2 linked regions of the Homo sapiens genome follow. The protein of the gene in region 2 interacts with the protein of the main gene of each other region in a biochemical or structural test. Each region holds a gene or a part of one and is shown on either strand. Other genes may lie near its edges. The genes, in order: MYOC and CAP1.

Region 1 (3,817 bases), about 130 Mb from region 2:
GGGAGGCTGAGGCAGGAAGATGACTCTTGAGTCCAAGAGGGCAAGGCTGCAGTGAGCCATGATCATGCCACTGCACTCCAGTCTGGGTGACAGAGTGAGACCCTGTCTTAAAAAAAAAAAAAATTAAAAAAAGAAAGACTCATAAGCCAAAATGTATATGTAACTGAGGACATCCTCAATGTGCATTCCAAACTCCAGGGGCAATTGGGAGTACCCCCCGGGACATGGCAGGCCTTCATTATTCCTAGCCTCAAATCCACAGAGCTATTTATCCATCCTTTTAGTCACATCATTGGAGCACCTATTGAGTGCAAGGCTGTGCTAGGTGCTCAAGAAAAAAAGGTGTCTAAGACACAAGTTTGTCTAATAGGCTAGTCTATGTTTAAAAAAAAAAAAAAAAAGACACAATCAGTCCATGCCCTTAAGGAAATCATAATCTGGCAAAGTCCTCATACCCGAGAAGGAAAATGGGTTTATTCCAGGCTGCTGCGGAAACCAGTTTCTTGGACAATCTGAATGGCTCCTGGAGAGTCCTGGAAACTTTTATTTCATTCCCTGCGTCTCCTTCTCCCTATCTGAGGTTGTGCAGGGGTGAGGAAACCCCTTTGTTCTTCATTCTAAAGGTTGCATTGGCCTAGGAGGGTATCCAGGGCAGGGACTGATTCACTAGGTCAAATGGAGTTTCCTTAGATCGACCTGAGACCAGTACCAGCTGCTTCCCTTCTCCCCCTGTGCAGGCAACACACACCTCCGGCAGGGACTTGGTGCTGCCTATGGGGGAGAGGGACAGGGTGCCCGAGGTTCCCTGTTCTTCTGTGCTGCCAGGGAGAGGTAAGAGAGAGTGACCGCCTTCCTGTACACAGGTGGCAGAACCATCTGTAACCTTCCTCTCTGATGCTGCCTCGCCGATTGCCATGCCTTCTCTCTTAGGCCCAGAACACACACCCAGGCTGTTAGGAGCAGCCCACCGCTCCCTGGCCCTGCCAGCCTCCTGCAATGTGCAGAGGCTCATTCGATGTGGCAAAGTCTTGCCAGGACAATTTTTCAAAATCAGGGCATTAAGCAAGTTCCTTGAATTGAGCTGGTTTCCTTTCATCTGTACCTCTTCTTGGATCACTGCAGACTCTGCCTCAGGACAACTCAAATTTCTTTTCTTTCATTGTCTCAACTCTCAGAATATAAGAGTTGCTGGGCATGGTGGCTCACGCCTGTAATTCCAGCACTTTGGGAGGCTGAGGTGGGTGGATCATGAGGTCAGGAGTTCGAGACCAGCCTGACCAACATGCTGAAACCCTGTCTCTACTAAAAATACAAAAATTAGCCGGGCATAGTGGCACATGCCTGTAATCTCAGCAACTAGGGAGGCTAAGTCAGGAGAATCGTTTGAACCTGGGAGGCAAAGGTTGCAGTGAGCTGAGATTGTGCCATTGGACTCCAGCCTGGGTGACAGAGAGACTCTGTCTCAAAAAAAAAAAAAAAAAAAAAAAAAGGAGTTGGTTTCAGGCAATGTGAGGAGAGAGAAATACTGCATGCCATCTGTACACAAAGTCTGGAGGACTGCCCCAACCTTGTCCCTACACTTCAGCTATGCCATCCACAGTTGCCATGGGAGGGTCCCTTAATAAATGTGTCAATACTAAAATTTCTCTGGAATGTTTCAAAATCACTAACATTTCATTCTGAATGTGGAAGAAAACCAAAAAGAGATTATGAAAATATTAAGGGCTATATTGTGACAGATCGTTAACATTTTTAGGGCTTTTTTTTTTAGGTTTTTAAAAAAATATTAAATTCAGGCGAGCCATCCCTCCCCTGCATCTGGCCCCTTTACACATACAAAATGATGTATTTTATGCTGGTTATTTAATTTAACAACTTACCGAGAAAAGATGTATACTAAGAAAAGTAGGGGTACCTACCTACCAGTCAGTGGGGAGAAAATTAAGAAAGAAATGCCCCTTTTGCTATAGAGGGAAGGAAGAAAGTGAAACCCAAAAAAGTCAGGCATTTTCACAGATGACTTCCTTGTGGATAGCTAAAGTATGTACTGGCTTTGCAACTCTAAAAAACAGCTTTTTTTTTTTTTTTTTTTGTGAAACAAGATGGTTTGTCGGCATTTATAGCTCTTTGCCCATTTCAAGTAATTTTTATGTAATTTTTAAATGTGATCTGGTGCCTTCAAAGTTTCAGAGAAATAGAGAAAGGCTTTAGGACTGCAGATAGCGCCTGATAAAGTTGAACTATCGCTACTACTTATTAAGTGTCTCTTATGAGCCAGTACTGTGCTGGGTGCTTGCTACTCACTACTTTCAAATAATGGTCCTGAAAGTGAACATTAATATCCCCTTTTGCAAATGAGGAAACCGAGGTTCAGAGAGGTTAAGTAACATGCCCAAGGTCACACAGCTAAGTGGTATCGCTGGGACTTGAACCCATGTCTTCCGAGGCCATGGCAGCTGCGAACTCTTCCATCCTGTGCTGAGGAGGTGTGTCAGTTATAAACGCATTGCCTCTCAGAGCTGAATGCACCCTCCCATGTATGCTGTCTGAAGAACAAGAGCTTTGAAGTGAGCGCGATGTTGAACTATCTCAGTAGAGGGCGCTGGAGGGACATCGTGGGAGGAAAAAGGTCTGCAGTTTTCCTGTCCTGCGTCCATAGGTGGTATGACTGTGAGGACATTTGTTGGAGTCCTACCCCAGCCACGGACCCAGAGCGAAGTTCTTCTGTGACCTCACAGCCACAGCCTGGCCATAACCTTTCCACAGCCCTCCCAACAAGGAACCCAGAGTCCCTGCACACGGACCTCAGTGCTCTGGAGGCCTCCTGCCTGTGCCTGCCCTGACTCCCACCATGCCCTTGCCACACGTTGCAGGTTGCCCTCCTCACCTGCACTGGGAGGCGGCCTATTGCAGCTGCAGACCAGCTGAGGCCTGCACACCTTAGCCACCTTCTCTGCAAGCTGATGTGCTGAACCTCACCTTCCCCTTCCAAGCTTGTCCGGCACCCTCCCTCAGCCCTAGGTGCCTATGGAGTTCACGTCTATCTATAGTTGCTCTTTCATCACGGTTAGTAATTCTTTAAAGTAAACTTCCCCAGCTTAACCCACTGTGTGATTTCTATCTCCCGACTGGACCCAGATGGCTACTGGAGGCTTCAGAAGAGTCTCAAAGATGCTGCTCAGCACTTTGTGGGGTGACCCACTCCTGGGGCTGAGCTCAGGTCCCAGTGGGTTGCCTTGTAAACTCTCAGCTCCTGGGCTGTGCACTCAATCCTCTTATCAGTTCTTCTACCCTCACTGGCAAAGAAGAGGCAGCAAAAGTGCCTGGCTGGTGCCAAGTTCCCTGCTGAATCCCACCATGGCCCTTACGGCTCTGAGCAAGGAGCCCTTCAGATTGTGCCTTGCAGGAACCACTCCTTATGTGCATTAGCTGGAATAAACATGAACTGCAATAAAACAAAATGTCAGGGAATGGCTTCCAGGATGACGGCAAGGCCAGTTCCCATTTGGCAGGGGCGATGGTTAAGTTATGAGCCTGCTGGCTTCTTCTAGGTCATGTCAGCCAGGAGCATCTGGCAATGGTCAGACTCCAGGAATAGAGCCATCTGGCATGCGGGTGGAAGCCCAGAATAGAGGATGCAAAACCCAAAGGCAGGGAAACAATCTCGTAAAGGGGCCTGGACCTAAGCCGGAAGTCATAGCTCCTAGTTCAGCTCTGCCATGTCCCAGCTGTGTGACTTTGGGTAAATGACTCCACCTCTCTGAGCCCCAGTATGCTGAGCTGAATTGTTTGGATGATTACATAAGTAACTATAAAT
Region 2 (3,817 bases):
TGGGAGGTGGAGGTTGCGGTGAGCCGAGATCGCGCCATTGCACTCCAGGCTGGGAAACGAGCAAAACTCCGTCTCAAAAAAAATAAAAAAATAAAAAACATTTCATCAAGAGGACATGTGGTAGTTAGCCATTTCTCTTACAGTTGGATTTAGGTTGTTACACCATTTTTAGCTACTATGATCATAGATTCCTAGAAGTGGCTGGACAACTCAGACTTCCACCAGCTGTGTTAAGGGTATCTACTTTATACCAACATTAGGTCACTCTCATGCAAATTTTCCATGTAACCAGTATGCATCTTCTGAGGAAGTTAACTCCCTAACACAATGCCTTCCCAGAGGCCATGTGGTGCCACGGAAAAAGCTCTGGGGAAAACCGCCAGCTCTGTGCCTTGGCACAAGAGGGTCCTCTATATATGCTACCTAATATTAAGTCACTTTCCCATGGGGCAGATGGCTTCCTCCAACTGTGATCATCATTTTCAATTTCCATTTAAGCCAGCTTTGCCGTCCCTTAAAGGAACAGGACACACCAAACGAGTCTCCACCACACAAGCCAGGGTTGTAGTTTACAGACGGTTCTGGTTGGTGGGGTCTGGCCCACACAACTTGTTGTACCTACTGTTCGTGTCCAAGTGCTCACTCACCATGTGTAATGCTCTCCCCCTGATTAATCTGCGCGAACAGTGATGAGCGGGAAGCAGACTCATATGAGCATGAAATGGTAGAGACTGGGGGAGGAGGGGGGCATGGTGGAGGGGGAGGAGGACATGATCCGGCAGAGGGTCCAGATGGCAGTCCGCTCAGTTCTTTTGCCACAGGCCCCTGGAACAATAAGTGCAGGTAACATCATCATCCTCTCTGCTCCCCTCTGTACCATTCCCAGTAGTGCCCTACATGGGCCAGTGCACATGGGGTCCCCACCACAGCCTTTGAGGCAATGATTAATGTGTCCTACCCATACCCAACTTGGCTTTATGCCTTCTCACCCTTTCCCAAGGATCCAGCTCTCAGTTCTATTTCTTGACCATCACATTTTGCCTTTGAACTCACCTGATTCCAGCTCTAAAAACTATTTCCACAAATCTACTTGACATCTTCCTTAGTGTGTTACCAGTACCTCTGATTCAACAGATTCAAAACTGATTTCATCATTTCCTGCCGCTCCTCTCCCTGTACAATCATCCCCTTGTCCCTATTTCAGTGAAAGATGTTACTATCCAAGACTGACTATTCAATCTTCTTTGAGGATTCCAACTTCTTCGACCTTATCAAATCTCTATTATCTTGGTGCTATCTCCTGCAAATGTTTTTCTACTATCCCCCAAACACCATGACCACTTTCATAATCTGAGCATGAGTCCTTATCCCTAACCTATACACTGAGACTCTTTTAAAGACAAATTGAATCATTATCACTCCCTTGCTCAAATACCTCATCCCAAAGTCTCAGCCTACCTTCCTTTCCAGCCTTTTCTCCTAAAATTCTGATCATTTCCCCTTATTGAAGCCAGAGATGACCAATCTCTACATTTACTCTGCATGTATTTTGTTTAAGCTGTGCCTTTTGTAGTATCCCACTTCTCACTGCCCTATACTACTTTCAAGTCTCACAGAAGAGTATATACCTTCAAAGTACAATCTCTTCTAGTGAGAAGCACTCTTCTCTTCCTCATACTCTAGTCTGTATCTTTATTATAGCATTTGGCTTGGTGATTTGTATTGGGGTTTTGCATTCTTATTTTTAAGCTCCTTAAAGGCTGGGATAGTGTAACTCATTTGTGTGTGTCTCCTGCTCCAGCACCAATCACTGTCCCTAACATATTTATTGAAATTGAATACCACTGAATATTCCTTCTCCTCTGATCCTTGCTTCCTCTACTCTTTTTACCCTTTCTTTCTCCTCCTTTTCTTCCTCCCTTCCACTGAAAAAACTAGCATTCCCTCACAGACTTTGGTAGTGCTGAAGTCTAAGAAACCTGTGGACCCCATGCTGGAGAGAGAAAGTGGGAGGGAGGGAGGGAGGGAGGAAGGATTCACTAACCGTTTTGCTCCAGGCCAGTCCGGTGGTATGGAACTCCTTAATGTAAGCCTGCAGCTCTGTCCATATACTTAAATAAGCTTTGACCCAGTCTACATGCTTCTTATCCCTGGGAGGATTAAAGAAGAACTTGTCACAGGTGATCCGGGTACATAACAGTGGTGACTCCAGAACCCTTCTTTCCTATGGGCTCACATTCTCCTACCCGTGGTGTTTCTTAGGCTCCGCTCAATGGCAGCTTTTCTATCATCACCAGCTTCTATGTATATACAACCTAGTCTATTACCCTAATCAGACCAAACTCCACTAAGATAGAGACTCTGGATTCTATCTCTATCTCTCATAGCAATGTTTCTCAAACTGTTTTAAGTACCAAAACTTTTTTTTTTCTTTTGACCACTTGCTGCTTATTGAAACTTTTTTCAAAGTAGACCTTAAACACAATCTAATATGTAAAACTGATAAAAGCAGACATTCTGTGCATAAAACCATGGTAGAGAGGAGAGCTCTTAAGTATCACTGTGGAACTCTAAAGACTAAGAAACTTAACTGCCTTATGAGACAATGCCTTATGTCAAAATATGCCCACCCTGACCAAAAGCAAACTTAAAAACTTTCCCTTAGGGGGAAACAATCAGCCTTAAATTATAGAAATAGCATTGTGCCTACGGTTCAAGTCCCCTCTCTTCTTATGTATTAACTGGGAAGGTTATTTAGCCTAAGACCTAGTTTCCTCAACTGTAAAGTGATGGGATAATGGTGGGATATATCAAAACACTGTCATGCTTAATTCCATGTTGCTAGAAGGATAAGGAAGTGCCTGTTGTTCTGGGACACATTTCACTCACAGGAAGGTGTAGTTTTCCTTAAAAAGAGTAGTTAATAAATGTTTGTTGATTGATGAAGGATGGAAGAAAGGAAAGGCTTGTGTAGATATGCAACTTAATAAATTTTGCCTGCAATCATTCCAGCTCAAAACCAGCAATGGAGAAGTCAGAACTGGTAGACGTATGTGGTTAGACATGCAATGACTGCCCTACGTAATACCTGCATTGGCTAGGCAGCCTTACTCTCACTTTAACTGACTTCATGAAAAATTTCTATTAAGTCCTATTGAACCCTTTGCCATTGGGCCAGTAACAAATTCTCAACAAAGGAACAAAATCTTATATAAAGGGCATTAGTCCATGTTACTGCCAGCAAAACTTCCTAAACCCAGAAGGGTAAGGATCAGAAGACTAAAAGGGCCTCTACCAAAAAAGGAGAGAAAGCAGAAGTGGAAGCAGAAGTATTTCCTGCTTGCAAATGCAGCTGTGAGACAATATCTGTAAAGCTCTCCAGAAAGCAGCCCTGAGATAAAACCAGCACAGTGGCTAAGGGCAGCCCTCAGTAACTCCAAAGTGCTACTCCAGCAAGTAACCAAATGGGTTTATCCTTTACCCCTTGAGAAAAAGCTGAACTTGGCTGGGCACAGTGGCTCACACCTGTAATCCCAGCACTTTGGGGAGACCAAGGCAGGAGAATCATTAGAGACCAGCCTGGGAAACAGTGAGACCTCATCTCTACGAAAAAATTAGAAAATTAGCCAGGCATGGTGGAGCGTGCCTGAAGTCCCAGCTACTTGGAGGACTGAGGTGGGAGGATTGTTTGAGCTGGGAGGTTGAGGCTGCAATGAGCTGTGATTGTGCCACTGTACTTCAGCCTGGGTGACAACGCAAGACACTGTCTCAGAAAAGAAAAAAAGAGAGAAAAGGCTGAACTTACACATCTTTGTAC

What was found.
Region 1: the proteins of CAP1 (region 2) and MYOC interact in far-western blotting, tested with the Homo sapiens proteins (one study listed by BioGRID).

What each region holds. Positions count from the first base shown.
Region 1 is NC_000001.11:171,642,505-171,646,321, forward strand, and holds part of MYOC (myocilin precursor), read right to left. Parts: intron 1-3,817. UniProt on the Homo sapiens protein: Secreted glycoprotein regulating the activation of different signaling pathways in adjacent cells to control different processes including cell adhesion, cell-matrix adhesion, cytoskeleton organization and cell migration.
Region 2 is NC_000001.11:40,064,548-40,068,364, reverse strand, and holds part of CAP1 (adenylyl cyclase-associated protein 1), read right to left. Parts: coding exon 3,806-3,817; intron 2,151-3,805; coding exon 2,045-2,150; intron 826-2,044; coding exon 648-825; intron 1-647. UniProt on the Homo sapiens protein: Directly regulates filament dynamics and has been implicated in a number of complex developmental and morphological processes, including mRNA localization and the establishment of cell polarity.